Homo sapiens: one gene and its partners. The protein of the gene in region 3 interacts with the protein of the main gene of each other region in a biochemical or structural test. Each region holds a gene or a part of one and is shown on either strand. Other genes may lie near its edges. The genes, in order: RAB3C, ALDH1L2, CRYAA, ADPRHL1, BORA, RAB40B and CDC40.

The links.
Region 1: the proteins of CRYAA (region 3) and RAB3C form a complex in vitro, tested with the Homo sapiens proteins (one large-scale study listed by BioGRID).
Region 2: the proteins of CRYAA (region 3) and ALDH1L2 form a complex in vitro, tested with the Homo sapiens proteins (one large-scale study listed by BioGRID).
Region 4: the proteins of CRYAA (region 3) and ADPRHL1 form a complex in vitro, tested with the Homo sapiens proteins (one large-scale study listed by BioGRID).
Region 5: the proteins of CRYAA (region 3) and BORA form a complex in vitro, tested with the Homo sapiens proteins (one large-scale study listed by BioGRID).
Region 6: the proteins of CRYAA (region 3) and RAB40B form a complex in vitro, tested with the Homo sapiens proteins (one large-scale study listed by BioGRID).
Region 7: the proteins of CRYAA (region 3) and CDC40 form a complex in vitro, tested with the Homo sapiens proteins (one large-scale study listed by BioGRID).

What each region holds. Positions count from the first base shown.
Region 1 is NC_000005.10:58,617,575-58,621,074, forward strand, and holds part of RAB3C (ras-related protein Rab-3C), read left to right. Parts: intron 1-68; coding exon 69-296; intron 297-3,500.
Region 2 is NC_000012.12:105,077,959-105,081,458, reverse strand, and holds part of ALDH1L2 (mitochondrial 10-formyltetrahydrofolate dehydrogenase precursor), read left to right. Parts: intron 1-3,500. UniProt on the Homo sapiens protein: Mitochondrial 10-formyltetrahydrofolate dehydrogenase that catalyzes the NADP(+)-dependent conversion of 10-formyltetrahydrofolate to tetrahydrofolate and carbon dioxide.
Region 3 is NC_000021.9:43,167,630-43,171,807, reverse strand, and holds the start of CRYAA (alpha-crystallin A chain), read right to left. Parts: upstream 2,801-4,178; 5' UTR 2,709-2,800; coding exon 2,520-2,708; intron 1,573-2,519; exon of another isoform or gene 1,477-1,572; coding exon of another isoform or gene 1,399-1,476; intron 1,292-1,398; coding exon 1,169-1,291; intron 772-1,168; exon of another isoform or gene 226-771; intron 1-225. UniProt on the Homo sapiens protein: Contributes to the transparency and refractive index of the lens. In its oxidized form (absence of intramolecular disulfide bond), acts as a chaperone, preventing aggregation of various proteins under a wide range of stress conditions.
Region 4 is NC_000013.11:113,450,689-113,454,650, reverse strand, and holds the start of ADPRHL1 (inactive ADP-ribosyltransferase ARH2), read left to right. Parts: upstream 1-1,162; 5' UTR 1,163-1,213; coding exon 1,214-1,427; intron 1,428-1,444; exon of another isoform or gene 1,445-3,962. UniProt on the Homo sapiens protein: Required for myofibril assembly and outgrowth of the cardiac chambers in the developing heart. Appears to be catalytically inactive, showing no activity against O-acetyl-ADP-ribose.
Region 5 is NC_000013.11:72,734,423-72,737,922, reverse strand, and holds part of BORA (protein aurora borealis), read right to left. Parts: intron 2,964-3,500; coding exon 2,918-2,963; intron 1-2,917. UniProt on the Homo sapiens protein: Required for the activation of AURKA at the onset of mitosis.
Region 6 is NC_000017.11:82,692,199-82,695,698, forward strand, and holds part of RAB40B (ras-related protein Rab-40B), read right to left. Parts: intron 1-3,500. UniProt on the Homo sapiens protein: RAB40B small GTPase acts as substrate-recognition components of the ECS(RAB40B) E3 ubiquitin ligase complex which mediates the ubiquitination of target proteins.
Region 7 is NC_000006.12:110,186,927-110,190,426, reverse strand, and holds part of CDC40 (pre-mRNA-processing factor 17), read right to left. Parts: intron 1-3,500. UniProt on the Homo sapiens protein: Required for pre-mRNA splicing as component of the activated spliceosome. Plays an important role in embryonic brain development; this function does not require proline isomerization.

The DNA of each region.
Region 1 (3,500 bases), on a different chromosome or scaffold from region 3:
AGCTTCATATCAAATGAGAGTCTGATCTACACCTATTTTGTTTTTGTTTTGTTTTGTTTTTATCACAGATGGCCTCTGCCCAAGATGCCAGGTACGGCCAGAAAGACTCCTCTGATCAGAACTTTGACTACATGTTCAAATTACTCATCATCGGCAATAGCAGTGTGGGGAAAACATCTTTTCTATTCCGTTATGCAGATGACTCCTTTACATCTGCATTCGTCAGCACAGTTGGGATCGATTTCAAAGTAAAAACTGTATTCAAAAATGAAAAGAGAATCAAGCTTCAGATTTGGGTAAGTGGCTTTGAACTGGCAGTGTTCTTCAGGCTGGGGTGTTGAACATATCCATTTGTAAGGGAGAAACTTTCTGCCTTGTTCTATCCCCAGGGCATCCACAAGCCTCAATTTCCAGCTTCTTTGCTGCAGAACATTCTGTTTCAAAGAAAGTAGTGGTGATGCCTCTTTAAGACATGAGGGGTGAATTATTATTATGCCTTGTTGTCATGTGGTGCTCCTTAAGAGTCTTCAGAATAAAAAAAAAATCCAAACCTCTATCTTGTTGGTGGTGGAAGGAACACTTTAAGTCTGGCTTTGCCTTTTATGATCTCTGTAACCTTGAGAAAGTCTGTGACTCCTTCTCTGACATTTTTGTAATCTATAAAATAAGCTAAGTGGTTCTGGGTTTTTAGGTCACAGAAAGCAGCCTCTCCTGGGCATTTCAAAGAAGAAGATAAACAACCAAATATAGGAAAAGTGTAGGTTTAGACCCTTCATAAAGCTCCAGATAGAACTTCAGAGATGGTCTATTTATACTGTGCAAACTGTTTTCAACTCTAAGAGCTATGTTTATATATGCAAATAAAACAAATGAAATGAAATATTTATTTGAAACAGGGTCTTTCCAAAGTAGAAGGTTCTCCCAAAGTTTTGAGACCATTTGGTTAGCTTTTTGCCTCTCCTTACCTCCAGAAGAAGATCAGAGGTAGCTTAGCCAAACTGGTGGGATAAATTTAGGAGACCAGTGAGCAAAAAACAGAGGAAAATCTATGTGGATAGCAGGTCCAAGGCAATATAAAAGATGGAGCAGCCAATTTAAAAAAATTGTTACACCAAAAAAGACTGATGTAGTAAATATTTTATGGACATCGTAATATGTACATAGGAAGAATGTTTCTACAGTAAGTTTTGGCACCTTTTTCCTATTCCTTTGTACCTCTGCCACTCAAATTGATTTGATCTGTAATCAGGCATTTCCCAAGAGGTGTTTTCTAGCTCCTTCTGAGACATTTACAACAGCTACTACCATTTGGTGCTGGTGCCAGGATTGATCAATAGGACTGACAATAACCCTCCCTTCATAAATATGGAAAGCTAAAAACAAAAAACAAACAAATCGCAGAGTAGAGGATTTTAACTTTTTTAAAAAAGAAAACAGCCCTTTATTTAAAAATCTGTATAAACTGAATGACCTTTACACATCCTAAAGGTCTTATTAAAGTAGAAATTTAAAGTAATATTTAAAGAGGCAGGTATATACACAGACAGGTACCTTCTTATGTAGCTTACAATAGGCTGTTACTATTTTACTTGTTCTAACTCTAGAGTCTTTCAAATCTAATTATAAATCACGTAAGAATTTGTACAAGTAGACCTTAGGCTGGGCATATTCCCTGCTCCATCATTCCCCAAAGCCATTTTTATTGGGAGTGTTCCTTTTCAGAAACTTGACCTCAATTAATGGAGATACCTATCACACACTCCTCTGTATGGAGACAGAAAAAGCTTTGTCCATTGCTTCAAGTATGGGTCCTGATTCATTCTCTTCCTTTTGAATTGCAGGCAATCCAATTGTTATATGATACATTTCGTATTAAGTTTTAAGGAAGGTTCCTTAATTCTCAGGGGCTTTGGTGAATGGAAAATTAAATTAATTTGGAAACGATACATCCCTTAACTCCATGACAATGTTCTTTTTACTAATATGAAAGAACAATCATTCCTCTGGTTGATAGCTCCACTTTTTCCTCTCTTCTTTCTGTCATAGAGATAATTAAAAATAGTGGTTAGAATCATTTAGATAAAGCATCAGCATGGTGTGTTAAGCCAGTCTTATAATTTCTGGCAAATTTTCAGTGTAGGTTTTTGACAGAAATTCTTTGTTGAGGTGCAAAATTATCTATCTTCAATGTAAATCAGATATATTTCAAATAATATAAATTATTTTTCACACTTAAAAATTATTTTCTTTAAAACAATGCTGGTACCAGGCCAGTGCTAATTCACTCACCTTTTTTTTTTGGCATTGAAATAAGTTATTTATGTCTACATCTCACTTCTGGATGAATATAGCTCTTCTCTGAGCCAACCAAAGCTCAGATCCCTGAGCTGCTTCTACTCTAATACCTCCTCATGCTGCTCAGTTTCCATAAGTTCATGAAAAAGTCTCTGAAATATTATTATCTTCAGATTTGCCTCTAATCTTCTACAATCTACTAGTTTCTTATTAAAAAAAAAACCCTTTAAGTCTATAGACAGTCAGGCCTGGGACCTCATTCTAGGGCCTCCATTCTCCTGCTCTGTGGATGCCCACACTCCCATCAGGGTTCAGCCACTTGGGAATCCTTCACTTTCCCCCATCGTCAGTCACAATAGTAGATTAATAGCCATTACTATCATTGCAATTAAAACATAATCCAATTTCTTCCTCTTTAGGTACATTAGGAGCTCTTAAGGCACATCTGATTTTAGGAGTGTGAAAATCAGTTTTATAATAGTGTATACAATACTGTATACTATTATATGTACTATTGTGGTCTGTTAGATTGTGAAACATTTAAAAGAAGTACAATACAAAGATTTTGTGCTTATGGAACTTGTAGTATAGTTAGAAAAGGAAATTAACACTCGTTGGATAATTATGTACTTCTATAAGCAAATATCAAATTGTATAAATATTATGCATAGCTAGCATTTATTGAATACATACCATATGTTAGGCATTATCTTTGCCTTATTTCTAATTCTCACAACCCAACTTTTAATTTATTACTATCCTATTTTACCTGAGAAATCTGCATGTAGGACAGTTAAATAAGTGAAATAACTTGTTCAGGGTTGCACATGCTGAATGGCTAAGAGGGGATTCCAAGCTAGGTCTATCACATTCTAACACTGCGCTAATTAAGAGTCTTCTTGACTAATGTGGTGGTTATTTTTTTTGAAAATGGCAATCTTGAGTGATGCATCTGGGATGGTGAAATGTTTTTGAAAGAGTTCACATTGAAGGCATGCAGGAGAAGAAATAATGAGGAGCAACAGTGGTATGCTTAAGTATAGGCATTCCTATGATAATTCCAGGAATCCTTGCATTATGCTATAATATAAGTGTGCTGGAAATTATTTAGTTGTAGGTAGTTATGATTGTTTAACAACTCTCACAAATCACTTATTTGGAAATATATTTAGCACAGATGGCTTGTCATCTCATTGTGCTTTAAT
Region 2 (3,500 bases), on a different chromosome or scaffold from region 3:
TCCAGTCCAAAGAGGTGGGACCCTTCCTTGCTCTTTGGAACCAAGTACCTGCTTTATTTCTCAGTTCTAGGAACCAGGTTCTTGTTTCATCATTGCCCGACCTCTGCTCTGGTGTCTTATCTGTTCATAGGATCTCCAAATTCAGCTTTAAACTGTATTTAATTGTCTGTTATACACTGAGGACTCTAAATCCTGAGGATATAATATTAATAGATGCATTAATAAATGCTTTACATATACAATTGTCCCTTGTTGTCCCTTGTATTCATAGGGGATTGGTTTCAGGACCTCCCGTGGATATCAAAATCTGAAGATGTTCAAGTCCCTTATATAAAACGGGTAATATTTGTATATAACCTGTGCATATTCTCCTGTATACTTTAAATCATCCGTAGATAACTTATAATAATGAATACAAAGTAGATGCTATGTAAATAATTGTCCCACTGTATTGTTTATGGAATAATGACAAGAAAAATTATACATGTCTAGTACAGATGCAATTTTTTCCAAATGTTTTCGATTCATGGTTGGTTGAATCCACGGATACAGAACCCACAAATACAGAGGGCGACTGTGTACTCCTTTAATCCTCATGATATCTCAATGAAGTAGGTACTAGGTTAAGCATCCCAAATCTGAACATTTGAAATCTGAAATGCTTTAAAATCTGAACATTTTTGAGCACTGACATGACACTCAAAGGTAATGATCATTACAGCATTTTGGATTTCAGATTTTCAGATTTGGGATGCTCCAATGGTAAGTATAATGCAAACATTCCAAAGTCTGAAAATATCCGAAATCTGAAACACTTCTGGTTCCAAGCATTTTGGATAAGGGATTCTCAACCTAGATTATTATGACCATTTTGCTGATAAGAAAACTGAGACCCAGAAGTGAACTAACTTTTTCAGACTCTCATAACCCAAAAGATAAAACAATAAACAAGAAAGAAATAGTCCCATTTTCAAGGAGTTCATAGATTAGTGGGACAGACTATTAAATCTATGTTTTTAGGAAAAGAATAATAATACATAATACACTAACTAAAATGATATACCAAAAATGAAATATAAATGAGCAATAAAATATGAAAATACACTCAACCAAACTAGTAATCAGGCAAATGCAACTTAGAACAAGATACCATTTTTCACTCATCAGGGTGGCAAAAATCATAAATTTGACGATATTGTGTGTTTAGCAGGGGTGAGAAAACAGTTCATCCACTACTCTAGAGGTCAATTTGATGCTACATATTTAAATTAAATTTATGTTTAAAAATGATCCTGCAGTTTCACTTGTAGGTATCTGAGAAAAATACTTCTACATGGGCACAGGAAGCATGTACCATGATATTCATTGCCATGGTATTTGTAATAATGACATATTGAAAGCCAAAATGTTTCTCAATAGGGACATGAACAAATAAACTGAGATATAGCTACACTAAGGAATACTGTGCAAGAATTTCAAAGAATGAATTATATGTACGAACAAGGAAAGTTGTGGAACATTACGCATAATATTATTTCATTTGAATTATTTTTGGAAATACAAAACAATACTTTTTGTATATATTTCCATGTTTTTAAATGCCTAGGAAAGGTCTGTAGAATTCACACCAAACAATAGTAGTTTCCTCTGGGGAGTGAGAAGGGGATGCAGATTGGGAGTGATGGTCAAAAGGGACTGTAGTCTTATCTGTGATCTTTTCTTTTCGTAAGGAGCTTGTGTGTATATGTAATATGTATAATTAAAAATTAATTTTAAAAATTTTATACAATTAAAATATTATAGTAAATTCTGTGCATGGAAATCCTGCCTCTCTAGTACTGGAGTCCGTTTCTGGACTCGAGCCCTTTGGACTGTCTCTCCCTTTACTCAAAGTCTTTGAAGTGTTCTGTGGTCACCAGCCTCGGCCCAGGAGCTCTCTCCAGCCTCTGAGTCCTGGGCATCCCCCTCTGGCATCACCTGCTCATAGGCCCCTGTACTGACATCCCTCCTTTTAAAATATTTTATCCTTTTTATGATGAAAAAACAAAAGTTGGCCAGACATCCAAGAAAGCCCTCACTGATATCTTCTTTATATAATGAGGCAATAGGAACATCAAGTTGCGCAAGCTTGCCATTTAGGATGGTATCCTGAATCTTGCAGATCTACCTCTATGTAAAGTGTACTTGTTGCTTCTGTTAGTATGAGAGTTTGTTACAATTGGTTGCAAGAGCTTTCACACTATTCCAGACTATATCCTGTGACTATGCTACAGGTGGATTGCTAGGTCAGCTTTGATTTTCACGCTCTGCTCCATTCTCAACACAAGAGGTGTGTCTACCCGGAGCTAGTTCATGCCTCCAGAGTTACCTAAGCAGTCTATTAGCATAGAAACTAGACTCTCCTGGTTTCAATTAACTCTCCTGCTTAAAGCGGCTCAGTGAATCTCATTGTCTTCACAATAAGGTCCCAATTATTTGACACAAAGCGCTCCATAATGTCTCTTGCTACGGTGTCGCTTGTCACCACTCCTTAACTCCCAGTATTGGACACGCTGTGCACATGCATTTGTTTCTTTGTAAATACCGCACCCTCTGCCTGGAACTTCCCAAGCCTCTCCCTTTTCTCTGCCAACTCCCAAGATGGATTCTCTAAGATTCAGCTAAGTAACTCCCTTCTGGAGAAGGCTTCTCGTCTCTTAACCAAACTGTGCTCTCTTATTCTAGCACTGTTACTATGTCTTAGCTTGTGTGCCCTCCCTACTAGTTGGTGGATTCCCGAGTACAGGGACTGCTTCTTTTTATCTTTAGTGTAAGGGTCGCAAAGAGAAATTCCCACAGAGGCCAAACAGGTAAAGCAAATGAGAGATTTGAGCTGCATAGAGGGCAAGACCATGTCTAGGGTAAAGGGGCCACCACTGCTCAGCGCTAGCTGACTGTTGCTATACGGCGCCACAGACCAGGGTTGACAAACCTCCTGAGTTTTTTTGATTTTTGTTTTTTGAGACAGAGTCTTGCTCTGTCGCCCAGGCTGGAGTGCAATGGCGCGATCTCAGCTCACAGCAACTTCTGCCTCCCGGGTTCAAGCGATCCTCCTGCCTCAGCCTCCTGAGTAGCTGGGAATACAGGCACGCGCCACCATGCCCAGCTAATTTTTTTGTACTTTTCATAAAGATGGGATTTCACCATGTTGGCCAGGCTGGTCTTGAACTCCTGACCTCAGGTGATCGGCACCCAGCCAAACCTCCTGAGTTTTAAAGACAAGTTAGAAGTTGTGCCTTCTGAGGTGCAACCTCCTAAAAATCTTAACAGAGTCCTCTTAAAAATGCTTTGTGGGCCAAATAAAACACCCCTGCCAGGCCAGTAATGTGCCACCTCTACCATGCACTACGCCCAGAGTGTGGCAAAGCCTGAAAACATGCTTGTTGGATGAGTCTTGCACAGAGTCAGGCACAGTTTGGGGCACTCTGTGCCGGATGCTCCATGAAGTGTTAGGCACCTCA
Region 3 (4,178 bases):
CATGGCTTCACTCCAAAATCGCAGGATCATTCCAGACCAGGCCCCGCACCTCAGCCAGTCTTCCCCTTCCAGACCCCGCAGGACTGCTCTAGCCCAGGTCTCTGCAGCCCTACCTAATGTGGCCAGACGACCCACATGCTTCCACGTCCCCTGGACGCCCTAAACCGCAGACTCAGCTCCCTGGGCTGACCTCCTCCTCCACTGGGTGCAAAGACCAAGAGCTGGGAGCTCAGGAAGCATGTTCCAGGCTGGCTGGGGCTACGTGGGGGCTTTACCGGGCCCAGGCGAGGGAGGGGCAGCACATGAGGAGGTCAGCGTTCACCCCCCAGCACCACCTTCTCCAGCCATTGAAAGAGGACCCTGGCCAAAAGAAACCAAGACTTTGGCTAAGAGTTCCACCTTCCAGCCCCACTCTGCTCTCCAGCCCCCGCGGGGCACTGTCCATCTGTGACAGTCCATGAGCTCTTCCCGGCTCCGCCAGGAGATGCAGGTCACCAGGGCTCCAGTGCCCCGGCTCCCTCAACACCACGGAGATCCGAGGCCTCCAGCCGAGCAAGAGCGGGGCATCAGGGTGACTGTGGGGAGAAGCTCCCGTCCACCTGCCCGGTACTAGCTGTGGGACCCAGCAGGCTGAGGACCCCCTTGTTCCCCAGCCGTGCCCTGGAATAATGAGGACACTGGTTCCAAAGTGCTGCTGTGAGGCGAAGGTGTCAATGCCTGTAAAGCATTCCAAGCGGATGCAGCTATGCCGTCGGGGACTGGCTTCCTCAGGTAGGGTTCATGTGAAGATGTACACTGGCTAGGAGGCGGCCACCCGGGGCACTCCCACTTCCTGGGGTTCTTTCTAAGACCACCCTGGCATCCAGGTGACAGGGATGGAGCTGGCGACGGCTGGGTGCAGCCCGGGAAGGGACCCTAACCTGGATCCCTGAGCCACATTAGCTCGGGAATGGTGACCTCTGTCACCGGGAGGGGCTGGCTGTGCTCAGGTGGGCACGGCCCCTCCCTTGGGGAAAAGCCAGGCCTGATTCGGGGTCCCCTGGAGAGCGTCCCTCTCCCAGGGTTGAAGGCATGGTGCAGGTGTGCAGGCCCGGTCGTGCCCGCCGTGACCCCCTTGTCCTCGCGCCCAACTCGCCCCCCTCTCCCACCTCTCAGTGCCTGGGCTCACCTGGCGCTCGTTGTGCTTTCCGTGGATCTCCACAAAGTCGTCCTGCACCTTCACGGTGAGGTCCTCCGGGGAGAAGTGCTTCACATCGAGGAAGATGACGAACTTGTCCCGGTCGGATCGAACCTGAAATCCAAACGTGCCATGTGGAGCTGCCCAGAGGGTGCCGTCCCTGCTGGGGTTGGCAGAGACAGGGCGGGTCCCGGTTATCAGAACAGAGATGCTTCGGTCACCTGCCGGCCTCTTCTCCCACACACCAAGTGGGGCAGAGCTTTCGGGGGCCTGTGACTGTCTCCTGGACAGACAGGCATGACCCTCGACCTGTCTCCAAACCCTCAGGGCCAGCTGAGGGGCTGAATGCTACTGGTGGGCCGGCTGGTTGTTTGGCTATGGTCAGGTGGCTGGTTATAGATAAGTTGGCTGGTTATGGGCTGGCTGGCTACTGGTTATGGTAGGAGGGGTCGTTACGGGTTGGTTGGTCCGTTAGGGTCAATCGTCTGGCTGGTGATGCTTGGCTGGCTGGCTGGACTCAGCCTGTGGAATGAGGTCACTGCCCTTGGTGTCATGCTGTCTATAGAAGCGGCCGGAGCCTGCTGACAGCCTGCGCAGCTGCCTCTCCAAAACGCACTTCCACATGCTCCTTCTCACTCCCCTGGCTCAGCCTTGGCTCCCTGAGGCATTTTGCACCCTGGCGTTGATGCCTACTGCAGCAGCCCTGGGGAGGACCCTGTTTATGAGGTGCTGGGTGGGACTCAGGCCCTCCAGAACAGCAGAACCTGCACCGCTCACCCGTGGCTCAGAGAGGAGGCCTGTGGTTGGGTGGGGGGGGGGGCGTCCATTGCCTGTCCTTTTAGCCTTGGCAGGGCACCTAAGTAAACTTGCCAAGAGCTTTGCTAGCCGTGGGCAGGCCGAGCTCATTGGAGGAGGTGCTAGGAACGCCCTGCTCTCTGGCTTTCAGGACTATGACCCCCACCTGCTCCCAGGTCTCCGGGACTCAGGAGACCAGAGGAACCCGGGAGCTGGCATTCGCCACCACGCATGCCTGGATGGGCTGCTCTTGGGGTTTCCAGTATGTGGCTGGTGCCTTACAAAGCACACATGGGTCATGAGCTGATGGAGGAAAGCAAAGGTGGATTCAGGCTGCTCCCTTGTCCACCCTCTCCCCAGTGCCAGGGGAAGCTCTGCCACGTGGCTGCAGTGGGGACACAGGCTCTCGCCCAGCCTCTGCAAGGGGATGAAGTGGGACGAGGCCACCTGCCTGACGGAGCAAGACCAGAGTCCATCGCTCTCCACCCACCGAGGCCACCACCCTCTGAGCAGCGAGGAGAGGCCAGCACCACGGGCCACGTCTTACCTCAGAGATGCCGGAGTCCAGCACGGTGCGGAAGAGGGACTGGCGGTAGTAGGGGCTGATGGTGGACGACAGGAAGGGCAGCAGGTCATACTCAAAAAGGCCCTCGCCGAAAAACTGGTCGAACAGCCGGCTGGGGTAGAAGGGCCCCAGGGTGCGCTTGAACCAGGGGTGCTGGATGGTCACGTCCATGTTCAGCTTTGGTACCACGGGGACCTGGAGGCTGGCAGGAGTCAGCGGGGCCTCTGGGCAGCGCAGTGTGGAGCCAAGGCCGAGCCCTCCCTATATATGCCACCAGCAGAATGGAGGCATTAAGGGATTTCTCTGGAAAGGCGTGAGCTCATGAAGAAGGCTGCTCAGTCAGCAGAAACGTGGCTGGGACAAGTGCCCGCCCCCAGCCCCAGGAGGGGCTGCACGGACTGTCCCCGAGGCCTGGACTCAGCTGAGGCCCGCCTGGGCACCCTGGGGCTCCCGGGAGGGCAGACAACCCAAGGAGGCGCCTGTGCCCCATACTCGCCTGGGGCGACAATGGAGCTTCTCATCTGCCAGTCACTGGGCAGGGGCTACGTGCCAGGGACCATGCTAGTTCTCTGCACACCTTGTCCTGCCGGGGTGGTCCTCATGGTCGCCAGAGGAGGGAGAGCACACACCCCCGTTAGACACAGAGGTTAGACACATCGTCCTCAGAGTCTCACCGGGCCTGGGCAAGAGTGCACTGGTTTCCAAAGCGGAGTGCATCTGTGAACCTCCGTTACACTCACCACTTACAAAAGTACGCATGCTTGTTAAAACTCGTGGAGAAGAAGCTGCAAGGTGCCATAATTCCAGCACCTGGGGGAGCCCTATGGCGTTTCATGCTTGTCCTCCAGGGGTCACATGCCTCCAACAGGAAGACGGGCTGGGCTGTGGGCAGATGAGAGCACCACGTGGTGAGCTTCCCTCTGCGGCCCACCCTGGACGCCCAGCCCCATGGCCATCGTCCCCTCGATGTAACGCCTCGAGCGTTACATCTCGTAATGATGTAATGCCTTGATGTAACATCCCCACGTAACGCCTCGAGCCTCCGTGGCATGACCTGCCGTGGCTGTTGAGTTGGGCTGCTCCTGTCAGGGTGGCGACATGTCCCCACGTCCCTGTCACCCATGCGGACCCACCACCCACATGATCCTGTTATCCACAAGTCCTGGTGATTATTTTGCTCCTCGACCCATGGCCCCTGTCCAGTTCTCACTAAGTGTCCAGGCACTCCCGGTTTTGTTTGTTTGTTTTTGAGATGGAGTCTTGCTGTGTCACCCAGAGTGGCGCCCAGATCATATAGTGGCGCGATCTCAGCTCACTGCAACCTCTGCCTCCCAGGTTCAAACAATTCTCCCACCTCAGCCTCCTGAGTAGCTGAGACTGCAGGTGCCTGCCACCACACCTGGCTAATTATTATTATTATTATTATTATTATTATTTTTGTATTTTTAGTAGAGACAGGGTTTCACCGTGTTGGCCAGGCTGGTCTCAAACTCTTGACCTCAGGTGACCCACCTGCCTTGGCCTCTCAAAGTGTAGGATTACAGGCGTGAGCCACTGCACCTGGCTCACTCCTAGTTTTAAGTCTTTTGATATTTTGGTATTTTGATATTTTGGTAAACTGGCCCTGGGGAGCATGGTCCT
Region 4 (3,962 bases), on a different chromosome or scaffold from region 3:
GAATCTCAGGATCATGCTAGCTGGCATGACTGTGCTGATGGCTGCCTCCACCAGCAGACAGTGGAGGGTGAGGTGAACTCACTGCTTGAGATCCTCCGTTTTAACAAGTGCTGATATAACGCCAGGCGGTTAAATGCTTCCTACTGTCTCGCTGTACACTACGAGAGTTTTTATCAGACGCATTTCTTCAGTCCAGGTGTAACTCTTTGCTTCCCCTGGGTCTGATGGAAACCAGGCCCCGAGGAAGGAGACGGGAGAGACACAGCCCTGCTGGGCTCCCGGCCTCTGCGGAGAACTGTCCTGGGGTGGGGTCGGGAGATGGACTGTTTTCCTAATTTATTTCAAACCAGGAACCCTGGCTGTGTGCATTCTGCCTCACCCCCCGTCTCCATATTTTTTAATATTCTTTTCATGAGCTAGCAGGGATGATGTAAATACACTGAGCTGACCGAGGGCCGGATGGGAGGTTCTAGTGAAGCCTGCGGTTTGCTGACGACTTTCCCCCTCAGTGCAGTCCAATTATTTGGGAGCCGTTAAACACCGCATGCTGAGAAGACACCGTCATTGTTCACACAGGAGCTAGATAGACTTTGTTCCCTCTACACTGCATTTTTTAAAAGTTTTCTATCAAAAACACATTTCATAATCGAAAAGTTTTCTAAATGATAAAACCGCATGTCACAGATTAATCTCAACATTATGTTGAGTGAAGGAAGCCAGACACCGAAGGCCACACATTGTATTTGAAATGTCCAGGAAAGGCAGAACTGTAGAGACAGCAGATGGGTTGTTGCCCGAGGGGTGAGGGCACGCCCCGCAGCGGGCGGCAGTGACAGGCACGCCTGCACACATCTGCTCCCGCATCACCCCACGCCACACACGGGGAAGTGTGCGCACTCCTTCCAGGGACAGCGAGAGGAGCCCCTGCTCTGTCAACGCTCTGAATGTGCTGCGGCTGCCGGCAGAAGCTAGCAGGCTCCTCTGCTGAGGAGCTGGTGCCTGTCCAGACGCAGAAGAAAACTGACACCTCCCACGTGGGGGACAGAAAGGTCCTCTCATTGGTGCCACCTGCAGAGATAGACAAGGAGCGCCTGGCCATCAGAGGACGCTCCTGACAGTGACACAGTGACCACTATAAAAGTCAGGCGGGCTGAGGAGGAGACAAAGGCCAGGACGCTCCGCAGCTGTTGGGGAAGAGGAGCTGCCTCCTGGGATGGAGAAATTTAAGGCTGCGATGTTGCTGGGGAGCGTCGGCGATGCTCTTGGCTACAGAAATGTCTGCAAGGAGAACAGCACTGTAGGCATGAAGATCCAGGAGGAGCTGCAACGTTCCGGGGGCCTGGACCACCTCGTACTCTCGCCAGGAGAATGGCCCGTGAGTGACAACACCATCATGCACATCGCAACCGCCGAGGCCCTCACCACAGGTAGGCTGGGCCCACCGCGCTCCGGTGTGCGGGCTGGAGGGAACACTGGCTGCTCGAGTTCTCCCAGTAAGCCTCCGAGAGCTTTGAAGGCAGTGCGGTCCTTCAGCGGATGGTGTTACCTGATACCGCTGCTAAAAGTGGCAATTTAATCTGAGTGTCCCTCAAATTTGATATGCGGCAGATCACGTTTCTCCTGTGGTTTCTCTGAGGGTGACAGTATTACTTTACTTTGCAGTTATTAAGATTCAGTTTTTAAACGTGACTTTTCACTTGTATTTGTAAAGCGTTAACTAGGCCTAGCACCTTCTGTTTCTAATAGAGTTAAAGCCAGTGAAGCCTCTCTCGGCCGTGCTGGTGGGAGTAGGGTGAGGGCTCACTTCTCGCTGCAGAGATTAAGCCTTCTTGTTCTGAATTCATTACAAAGGGATGTAAAATAAGCCAGTTTGAAATGTGAACCCATTAATACTGTTTGGGGATTAGTTCTAAATTCCAATGAATTAAAGTTAGAATATCATCTCCCAAAATGGTTCAGCTTGGAGAGTTGCCCATACACAAATGTGTTCTAAGAAAATGACATAAACTTGATTGGACGAGATTGGAGACAAAGCTTCTTAAAATACCTTTAAGTAGCAAATTGATTTTAGGATCAAGCTTTTGCATGAATTTCAGGGAAATGGCAGGTGCACAGACATGCAGTCCAGCTTTCCTACGAGGCATTTGCTCTTCAAAACCCCGTGGGTGCTGTTTATCATGGCAGAATTAAAATCTGAGGGCTGCAGCTAAGTCAATGAAATCTCACTTATGCGTTCACTCCACCATTCTGTTCATCTGCCATGGACGTGCCCAGTTTAGTTCTGTGCTCACAGCAGAGGAATGCCATCGAGCCTGTGGCCGGTCCCTAAATAACGGGAGAGCTGAAGCGCCGGCGATAAGATAAGGCTCCCGGCTTGCTGGAGACGGGGAGGCGTCCGACTGTTCACAGCCTTGGCGTCCAGGAGCTCCTGCTTCTGGTTTTCCAGGCGGCCACTCGTGTGCCCTTAGGACCAGCAACCCCATGCTTGTGCCCCGCAGCCCAGAACAGGTGCACCCCACACACAGACACCTGTGGGACACAGCTCCGGCTTGTTTTCACCGTAGACGGCTGGAGCTCACTCTTGAGTTTGGCTTCCTCTGGGCGTCTGATGCCGTGTGTGCGCTCATACCAGCTCTGCATGTCCCATTTCTGGTAGCACTTGGTGGGCGTTTTGTAAATGGCAGCGTCCATGGCTGTGGGTCTGGTCCTGCCAGGCCCGCAGGGAGGGCAGCGGCACAGGACACTCCAAAAGTGCACCGACGGAGATCGGCCCAACAGGACACGAAATTCACACAGTTAAAAGGGTTACGGACGTTTAGGGCACTGTTTTTTGTTTGTTTTTTGAGACGGAGTCTTTCTCCATCGCCCAGGCTGGAGTGCAGTGGCGTGATCTCAGCTCACTGCAACCTCCACCTCCCAGGTTCAAGTGATTCTCCTGCCTCAGCCTCCTGAGTAGCTGGGGCTACAGGTGCCCACCACCACGCCCGGCTGATTTTTGTATTTTTAGTAGAGACGGGGTTTCACCACGTTGTCCAGGCTGGTCTCGAACTCCTGACCTCAAGTGATCCACCCACCTCAGCTTCCCAAAGTGCTGGGATGACAGGCGTGAGCCACCATGGGGCGCTATTCTTAAGGAGGAAGTAAGTTTGCTCTAAGCTCTCAGGGTCCTCAGCTGTGGACTGGAAGGGAGGGTTCACTGTGCTGCTGCAGCGTCTAGTTTGTGGGTCATGAGAAAATACGCATCCAAGATCACCCCTGGAATTGCTTACTGTGGGCGGCAAGCCACCCAGGCACTGAGGCAAGAGACAGAGGACACGAGCTGTTCCAGTATAATAAAACAAGAATAGTTATACCAGATATAGATCTTAGATATGATTATATATGAATATCATTAATCATTAGTTTGTAGCAATTACTTTTTATTCCAATATTATGATAATCCTCGCTCTATAATCATAGCCTAGGAAAAACCAGGCCATACAGAGATAGGAGCTGAGGGGACATAGTGAGGTGTGACCAGAAGACAAGAGTGCGAGCCTTCTGTTATGCCCGGACAGGGCCACCAGATGGCTCCTTGGTCTAGCTGTGACGCCAGCGTCTGGGAAGACGCCCGTTACCAGGCGGATCGTGGTCCAGCAGTAGCAAAAGGTGGCAAGGAACAACACCTGCTACTTAGCAGACCAGGAAGGGGGGGGGGGTCTCCCTTTCCCCAGGGGAGTTTAGAGAAGACTGCTCTTCCACCTCTTGTGGAGGGCCTGACATGAGTCAGGCTCGCCCGCAGTTATCCGGAGGCCTAACCGTCTCCCTGTGATGCTGTGCTTCAGTGGTCACACTCCTAGTCTGCCTTCATGTTCCATCCTGTACACCTGGCTCTGCCTTCTAGATAGCAGTAGTAAATTAGTGAAAAATTAGTACTATCAGTACTAATAGTCCCTGATATGCAGAAATAATGGCATAAGCTG
Region 5 (3,500 bases), on a different chromosome or scaffold from region 3:
CCCAAAATGTGAGACGGTACCTGTGTTTTTCCAAGTAATTATTAAACATGTCATATACTAACTTTATAACTGTATGCAAAAATTTTAATACAAATGACCAAAGGAAAAATGGAAGAAATTTAAAGTATATATAAAGAGGAATCTTAATACTTCAAATCAACCAGTTAAATTTGAAACTTGCAAACTAAACTAAGAGGATTAATCATAGACAAAGTATTTTAAATTTCTTTCCCAGGTTTTTTTGATGGGGTTACAAAAAAAAGGATGAAAAGGGAAGGAATATATTAAGACAGAGACATGCAAGTAGGCCAGTATGAATGACGGCACTGAAGCTGGCTTGTTTGTTCTGGCTCTCAAGATCTGATTATTAAATTTTCAAGAATTCTGTGCACCAGTTGTTAAAACCAATATTAAAAATAAAATTATGTAAACTTACAATTAAATATATTAAAAATAAAGGTAACAAATATCCAAAACTCACCACTTGCTAATTATTTTATATATTTATCAATGTCTATGCTCTTGAGGTTAATAATGTATTTTGTATCTGTATGGTGGAATTCCTACATATAATGGTGTGCCACTATTCTTCCTTTCCCATTCAGTGATGTCACATCAGTAGCTTGAAACTGGCCATGGTTGGAGTACTTACACTATGGATAGCAGGAATCGCTATAAATCGTACTCCTTCCACGACCAGAGAGCAAGTTGTTAAACATTCACCAGCACACTACTGGCCAGTATATTCAAATGAGATAGAGCATTTGTATACTTTTCTTTCCTCTTTCATTTCTACCACAGTGTTTTCCCTTCCCTAGGTTTTGCAAGTAACCAAACATATTTTCTTCATATTTTGCTATACATATGACAAAGAGCTAATTTTCTTAACTAAATTACCCATGAATCTAAGAGGAAAAGATTCTTTTTTTTTTTTTTTTTAAAGGTGGACTGGGGCAGATATAGACAATTACCAGAAAAAAAATTAAAGGACCTATAAACTTACAAAGTGATGTATAAGTTCACTCAAAAGTAAAGAAATACAAAAAAAAAAAGTCATTTTTAAAGTAATAGGAGTAGAACAAATTAAGAATTCTGATAATAATCAATATTGGAGATATGGAAAATCAAGCAGTGTCACACTGTAATCAGGAGTATAAACTGGTATAACCTTTTAGGAGGGCAATATGGTAAAATCTACCAAAACTGAAAATTCACAAAGCCTCTGACTTACTAGGTCCATTTCAAGAATATAAAGATATATATACAAATCACTGCAGCATTATTTGTGACAGAAAAATAATAAACACAATTTAAACATCTGTCAACAGGGGCTAGGTAACTATGCTGTTGCTAAGAGAATGTAAAAATCTGTATATGCTGGTTATCAAAAATTTCTAAGAAAAATCATGAAGCAAAAAAAGGAGGATGCAGTATGAGAACGATAATAGTATGAGAATGATAATCCTATTTGTCGAAAATATTTTAAGGACATATGCTATTAAATAAGTAAAATTAATCTGAAAGTACACATAAGAAATGTTATAGTCATTACCTTCATGAAGTGGGATGGGGAAACAGGAGGCTTTTTATTTTATATTTTTTCTTTTTGTTTTTACTATATGTATATGTTTCTTCTATTTTCAAAAATATATATTGAAAAGAAACAAATTTTCTTAAGTTTACCTGCTGGGTTTCTCTTTAAAATTAAGGATTCTTAAAGAAAGTATTTTTTCAAAATGTTGGAAATTTTGAGAGTCTGAGAATATTCAGGTGGGGAAGAACCAAGTGACTGAGTCAGAATGAAAACTGTGCAGTTACTAGATAGAAGAAGAAGTAGGTAATGTTTAGCAGGAGTAAACATAGTCTTTTGTGGTACGGAAGAGCCAAGTACGGCTAAGGAACAGAGGAGGGTTGAGGGGGCTAGAGGGGCAGAAAAGTAAAAATCAGAAATGCTGCCATCACATAAAGACTTTCTGAGGAAAGAACAAGGTAAGTAACCCTTACTTAGATGCTGGGCCAGGCGCAGTGGCTCACGCCTGTAATCCCAGCACTTTGGGAGGCCAAGGTAGGCGGATCATCTGAGGTCGGGAGTTCGAGACCAGCTTGACCAAGATGGAGAAATCCCGTCTCTACTAAAAATACAAAATTAGCTGCGTGTGGTGGCGCATGCCTGTAATCCCAGCTACTCGGGAGACTGAGGCAGGAGAATCACTTGAACCTGGGAGGCGGAGACTGCAGTGGGCTGAGATCATGCCATTGCACTCCAGCCTGGGCAACAAGAACGAAACGCCGTCTCAAAAAACAAAAAATAATAATAATAATAACCTTATTTAGATGCTAAGAAAGGCAATTCAACAGACATAAAAAAGCAAAAAACTTAATTATTTTTATTTTTTAGAAAGCCTACATTATGATATACCTTTCCTGTTTAACAGTAAGAGATTTTATTTCATGAATATCTTAAAAATCCAAAGTATTAACAAAAAAAGACAAAGCCATTCCCAATGCCAATCTAGACTCTGAAGGCCTGAGAATATTCGACTTCCTCTACATAAACTCCAACTTGAAACAAAGTTTGTGCTAATCAACATTTTGAAGGCACAAGGAAGACAAATTGTGCTAGGTCCTGAGAATGAAAGGATGAAGTACAGTATTGGCCAAAAAAGATTGCGTCTAGGGGACAGAAACACTAAACTGATCATTACAACAGTATGCAAGTGCTATGCAAGGTACTGGGATAGCTGGAAATTATTGGTCTTAGGACAGTACAGAAGGGTGCTTTATATAGATGGGACTGTGAAGGGCTTGGAGGGGAGATAGGACAGTGAAGGAATTGAAGAAAGTCTTCCTAAAAGAAGTGATGTACATGCAGAATTGATCCTTAACTGATTTAATGATCAGTAACAGTTTAAGTTACCTCTTCAATGGCTTTTTGTCTTTTGTCTTCCACATCTTTATCTATTCTATACAAAGATAAAGAAGAAAAATAACCATGCTATTACTTAAGCTTATTGAACATTTTAAAAAATAACCTTTCAAATAAATAATCTCCCTTCATTGAAAACTGGCAAATGTTAAGCTCACTTTATAATTAATACTAGTGGTATCTTGTAACATTTAGTAACATTTAGGCAGTATTCTGAAATTCAGCAGTTAGCTGTTAGGCTTACCTCCCTCTTTTCCATTCAAAGTTTGAATGCAATGATACTTTATTTCAAAAGACTTACATTGATATTAAATTGCTTTTAACAATATAAATTTGATAAACTTTGTCCCTTAATACAAATTAAGAAGTATTTAATTCAACATACATCTAAAAATTGTCCAAAGTTTTTCTCTTCAATTATAACAAGTTTATCATGGCAATAATTTTAGAATCAACTTTTACTGTAAAATAGATGAGGATAGTTCACAGTTCTAAACAGTCAAAAATATTAACTCTGAAATAAAACACTGACAATATAACATTTTTTCCAAATGAATTTTTTTTTCACTTTGAT
Region 6 (3,500 bases), on a different chromosome or scaffold from region 3:
GAGGTGACAGGCAGAGCAGTGGGGCCCGCACGGTCCGTGGGCTGAGGTGACAGGCAGAGCAGTGGGGTCCACATAGTCTGTGGAGTCAAGTTGCCGACAGGGTCCAAGATCCAAGAACTCTGCCCTGCAACTACAGACCGAGAGGAAGACAAACGCCCAGGAGGGAGAATCCAGGCCTCGCTGACCGTATCGGAGCAAAGGGAACACCTGGGCACAGCTGCCTGAGCAAGGACAAGATGCATCTGACTGCCCTGGCCAGCACAGGGCATGCCCATCCACAGAAGACAGAGTCTGACCCGGGGCACACACACAAGAGACAGGCGGGCCAACGGTGCAGACCCAGACCCACAGGCGGGCTCTCAGCTGGGACAACGGTGGCCGTGCGATGCGGGGTGGGGGTGGGGGGCATCCGACTGAAAAAAGTGTGTCTCGATCCCTGCCTCAGGCCTCACCCCAGCTGGAGGCAGCCATTCATGTCAAAGGTAAAACGATGCTTGTAGAGAACATTTTTTTTTTAAATCTGGGAGCAGCAAAGGTTTGTTCAACAGGACCCAAAGTCCTAACCACAAAACACTGATAATTTGGATTATGTTAAAATTAAGAGCTTCTGTTCATCCAAAAATACCACTGAAGGAGTGGAAAGGTGACGTGCAGATGAGAGTGGCTATCCAGGATCACACAGCCGACAAAGGACTCACAGCCAGAATCTATATTTTAAACACTCCTAGCAAGCATTGAAAGAAATTCAACCTAAATGAAAAAACAGACATAAGACTTGGGCATTTTTCTTCTTTCTGTTTCTATTTTTTTTCTTTTTTTTTGGAGACAGAGTCCCACTCTGTTGCCCAGGCTGGTGTGCAGTGGTGCGATCTCAGCTCACTGCAACCTCCGCCTCCCGGGTTCAAGTGCTTCTCCTGCCTCAGTCTCCCGAGTAGCTGGGAATACAGGTGCCCGCCACCACACCTGGCTAATTTTTTTTTGTATTTTTAGTAGAGATGGGGTTTCACCAAGTTAGCCAGGCTGGTCTCGAACTCTTGACCTCTGGTGATCCATCCGCCTCGGCCTCTGAAAGTGCTGGGATTGCAGACGTGAGCCACCAGGCCCGGCCGACTTGGGCATTTTTCCAAAGAGGAATTTCGCATAGACGTATGAAAAGGTGCTCAGTCATCAGAGAAATGCAAAGGCAAACTACACACCACAGAAGGACAGAGACAGCCCCGTGCTGAGAGGGAAGATGATGCAGCCGGGGCCTCCAGCTTTGCTGGTGGGAGCACCAAGTGAAAAATGCTTTGCGAGAATCTACTACAGGGAAACCTGTGCAGACATTTGCGTGCCTGATACCCAGCGATTCACACGCATAGGGACCTTTCAACAGAAATGCAAAGGATGTGTACTAGGAATGTTCATGGCAGAACAAACCATAATAGTCAGAAACCTGAAACCACCCAAATGCCCGTCACCCGCAGGATGGAGAATAAATCACGGTAGAGTCACAAAAGGGATGTCACCACCATGAGAATTAACACCCCACAGCCTCACACAACATGGGAGAGTCTCTTTCACATAACGGGGGCCAGAGACACAGTCACAGAAGTGCACATTGGCCAGGCGCAGTGGCTCACGCCTGTAATTCCAGCACTTTGGGAGGCCGAGGCGGGCAGATCACCTTAGGCCCGGAGTTCCAGACCATCCTGGCTAACAAAGTGAAACCCCGTCTCTACTAAAAATACAAAAATTAGCCAGGCGTGGTGGCGCACACCTGTAGTCCCAGCTACTCAGGAGGCTGAGACAGGAAAATCGCTTGAACCTGGGAGGCAGAGGTTGCAGTGAGCTGAGATCGTGCCACTGCACTCCAGCCTGGGCAACAGAGCGAGACTCCATCTCAAAAAAAAAAAAAAAAAAAAGGAAAACTCCAAAACTAAGAGAAAATTAGGAGACAAAAATAACATCTTTACTGAACTAATCAATAAGTTAGAAACAGCTAGAACAGTTTACTGAAATCAAAATTACCAACAAATAGGAAAGGCATAAGATAATCAGAAAAATTCAGGCCGCGCACTGTGGCTCACACCTGTAATCCCAGCACTTTGGGAGGCTGAGCTAAGCAGATCACCTGAGGTTAGGGGTTCGAGACCACCCTGGCCAACATGGAAACCCCGTCTCTACTAAAAATACAAAAACAAATTGGCCCAGTGTGGTGGCAGGCACCTGTAATCCCAGCTACCTGGGAGGTTGAAGCAGGCGAATCACTTGAACCTGGGAGGTGGAGGTTGCAGTGAGGTGAGATCACACCACTGCACTCCAACCTGGGCAACAGATTGAGACTACATCTAAGAAAAAAAAAATACATACACACACACATACACACACACACCTGGAAACTCAAAGAGTACGTTCATACTAAAAGTTTAACACAAACATTCAACTCTGAGACATGGTCTGGTTAAGCAGAAGAACTATGAGACAAAAAGAAAGAATTCCTCAGAAATTCATGAAGGGAAGGACAAGCCTCCACATGGGGAAAAATCAGCTGACCTCAGGCTTCCCCACAGCACATGTGAGCCAGGGGATGGTGGAATGACAGCTGCAAAGTGTTGGGGAAGAAAATAAATCTAAGAGTATTATACCCAGCCAAGATATCTCTACATTGTTCAAAGATAAAGACCATGGGCAGACATTCTCAGACACAAAAAAACACTCAGGAAATACTCGAGTCCTTCTGAAAAAACGACTGATAATGAAATCTAGGTGATTAAGAGGGACAGCACAATGAACAGAGACATAAATGGTAAAAGGACTTTGGTGAGCACTGACTGTATTTAAATGTTGAATTGATACTAAATCATTGCGGGCACTACAGCCACAATACAGAAGCAAGGGCTATAAACCTGGACAATATAAAAATAACAGCCTGGGCTACAAAACTCAGGAGGAATTGGGTGGAGGGAAATGGAGTGTGGAGTTACGAACGCCCTCATCTTTCTTTCTTTCTTTCTTTCTTTTTTTTTTTTCGAGACAAAATCTCACTCTGTCGCTGGGCTGGAGTGCAATGGTGTGATCTCAGCTCACTTCACCCTCCACCTCCTGGGTTCCAGCGATTCTCCTGCCTCAGCCTCCCAAGTAGCTGGGATTACAGGCACGCGGCACCACGCCCAGCTAATTTTTGTATTTTTAGTAGAGATAGGGTTTCACCATGTTGACCAGGCTGGTCTCAAACTCCTGACCTCATGACCCGCCCACCTTGGCCTCCCCAAGTGCTGGGATTACAGCTGTGAGCCACTGCGCCCGGCTGCCCTCACCTTTCAATAACAAGCACCTATAGTGTTTCTCAGCGAAACATGTCATTAAAAAAAAAAAAAAACATGGCCAGGTGCTGTGGCTCAGGCCTATAATCTCAGCATTTGAGGAGGCCAAAAAAGGAGGATGGCTTGAACCCAGGAGGGTCAAGGCTGCAGTGATCTGCAATCACACCACTGCACTCCAGCCTGGGCGGCAGAGAA
Region 7 (3,500 bases), on a different chromosome or scaffold from region 3:
TGGCCTAGTTAGGGCTTCATTATATCTTGCCTGGCCTATTGTAATACTTCCTTATCTGCTTTAATACACCCTCACTTTTGTCATATTAGACTAATTGCTGATTTTTAAAAATAGCAAGCACTTTGATGCTTTCTGTGCTGTAGGCAATGTTACCGCCTTGTACCTTAGGCAATGCCTTTATTATTTTATGCCGCCTTCTTATTTTTCCTGATACCTTCCCTCCTCCTGCCTCAGGAAAACTGTTGGGTTTTTGTTTGTGGTCCTAAAAAAATGCTGTACTCTATTTGATAGTACTTGTGATATATTATTTGTTGCACATGGCTTTTATGTACATCATATATCCTCACTGCCCAGTAGAACGCAGGGCATTCAGCACATATTCAATAAATATTTGTTAAATTAAATTGAAGACAGAAAAGCCAAATCTGTAGAGAAATTAAGTAGGATAAGGCTGACCAACAATCATTGGATTTGGCAATTATGTCACAAAAAACCTTTGTGAGAGTGACTGTTAGTAAGGACTATGGAAAGCCAGCTGCAAGAGGCAGAGGTGTAAATGAGGATCTAGAAAAACACCACCATATAAATCTGTACTGAAAATATTTGGTGGTAAAAAACAGAACAGATGGGGTGTCAGGTTGAAGGATTTTCAGGGTCAAGTTTTTCTTCTTCCTTAAGAAGAGACTAAGTCAAAGATGTGGTCAATCGTAGGCTAGAAGGCAGGTGATGGCAGGGAGAGACACATGACAAAAAGGACCAGATAAAGGTACAGTTGCCCTAGAAGAGGTAGGAGGGAATAAAATTCAGGACACAGTTGGAAGATTAGCCTCTGAAAAGAGGAGTGCTCTCTTTGGGATGAAATAGAGATGACAAAGGTAAGAATGGGTGATAGATGACAGATGTTTGGAGGTGTTGGGAATCATAATTGATCCTTTTATTTTCTTGGTGTAGTCAGGGTACAGGCAAATTTATAAAGCAAGCATGGAGCTCCAGATTCATATATTCATTCAACAGATTTTGATTGTGTGCCTACTATGTGCCAGGCACTGTCCTGGGCCCACAGAAATAGACAAAGATACCTGCCCTTGTGGAGTTTATATTCTAGTGGAGGAGACAGACAATAGACTATATAATATATAAATAAGTTTACAGCTCTCTAGAAGAGGCTAAATAATATGAAAAAAAAGAATTTAACAACACTAACATGCTAGCACCAGAGCAGACACACTATTTCATATAATCTGTGAGGTTAAGTGTTAGCAGGATTAAGTCACTTAACCCAAGCTACTAATAGAATAAATGGGAAGGGGAAGAGCTCAAAGTAACCACAATGAACAATGTTAAAGAGATCTAACTAGTGACAAATTAAAAAATCACTGGCAGAGTAACTAGGTGTATCAGTCAGGGTTCTTAGTTGCAAGCAGCAGGCTGATTCAGCATTATAAAATCCTTATGAGTTTCTCTTAGAATTACCAGGAAGTGTGGAGAATCAGCTTTGACAAGTAGGCAGAAATAAAGGGTCAGTATACACTTAATAGATGAAATCACAATTCAAAATTAATCATCACAGAACCCATCCAGTGAGGATAATTGTTTACCATGACTGAACACCACTACTAAACTGCTATGGCTACCACTGGATGCTGCTATTGAAACTGCTGGCCTGAGAAACTAGAAAACATTGACCATCATTGCCAGTTTAAGTCCTCTTTCCTGGCTTCTTTGTGGATAAATTTCAGATTAGAAAGCTTAGGTTGGTACATCTGTTTGGCTGAGCCCAACAGATACACCCACCCAACAGTCCTGAGCCTCAGCTGAAAGGGAGCTGAATTAGAATAATCTGGGTTTTCAGCTTCTGAAGATGGGTGATGAACAGGGATGTTCTTCAAATTAAGACCCTTAAGAAAGGGGTTTCAAATGCTAGGCCATTGAAAAGATGACAAATATTATCTATATCACCCTAGAATGAACACTAGAATCTTTACTGATGAAAGATACTATCTTGCACATGGCCCAATAGCAAACTCAGTACTATAAAGTTAACAGGTTACATACAAATTGTTTAAACTGCATAAAAGCTAAATTAAATGCTTTTCCCGCTTAATATTCAACCCCTAGTGACAAACTGCTTAAAATAACATGAGGCTTAGCCACATTCATATCTTCCCAAAGGATTTTATAGTGTATAGTTGCTAGAACCACTTTATAATATGGGATATGAGATCTTTCCAATTAAGGGTATTTAAAATATTCCAAATTGAAATTATTTTGAAGAGTATCATGACACATCAATTTTTAAATGCAAAGTACAATTTAAGAAATTACTGTTTATATAAGCAACACTGGCAGCCAATAAAAAATATAAGTAAGTCCCAGTCTCTGACTCCTGCTAAAATTATAGAACAAATTGAACAACTCTCAAGAAAACGAAGGGCTGTTATTTTACAGAAATTTAATTAGAAAACTTGGACAATACCACAACCTTGTTTTAATACCCATGAGGCATTCAATACCAATTAGGTATGCAATTGGAATTACCACAGAATAACAAATTATTTCTATTCAGTTTCAATTATCCACAAAAATTAAAATGCAGTAAGTGAAGGGCACCCTGTGGGTCAAATAAGTTTAAATAGTTTATCTTTTTGTTGATTCAAAGTAATTTGAGAATAAAACTGGGTAATATTCACTTTTCAGTCTTTTCCACATTTCTTCCTGTGCCCAAATAAGAAAAGAGACATAAAAACACCATGTAAACTGTAAAGCAGATCACAAATATTATTATTATAAGTTACTTATCAATTTATGGCATAGTTTTTTTTCCTCCCAGAAAACAGAAATGACTAAACTTCCTAATAGAAGAATTTAGGTGAATGATATAAAAGAACAGAACTTCAGATAAAGATATCCTCTGAGTTTGGCCCTTAACAGATTGCAGAGGGAAAAGGTCGTCCATTTGAAGCTCACAAATATAGGAAATACCACACATGAAAAAACTGAAAAATATGCCTCAAAATTAGAGGCAGAATTTTTATTTTACTTTAGTTGGCTATGCTAAGGCAAAGAATACATTCGGGGGAAGTAACATAGTCACTGGTTGAAATGAGAGAAAGCCAGATCTGCTTTTGTTTTTGTAACCTTAAAGTCACTTAATAACCAACTCTTGCAATCCAATAGGGTCCACTGCATGATTTCTAAAGTGCAAAACCTTACAATGTTGCATGTAAAAATTTTTATTGGCTAACATGGTGAAACCCCGTCTCTACTAAAAATACAAAAAATTAGCCAGGCGTGGTGGCGGGTGCCTGTAGTCCCAGCTACTAGGGAGGCTGAGGCAGGAAAATGGTGTAAGCCCAGGAGGCAGAGCTTGCAGTGAGCGGAGATTGCGCCACTCAACTCCAGCCTGGGAGACAGCGAGACTCCGTCTCAAAGAAAAAAAAAAATTTTATCCAGAAAATACTCATTGTCATACATATACTGGAGAACACAAATATGTGTAA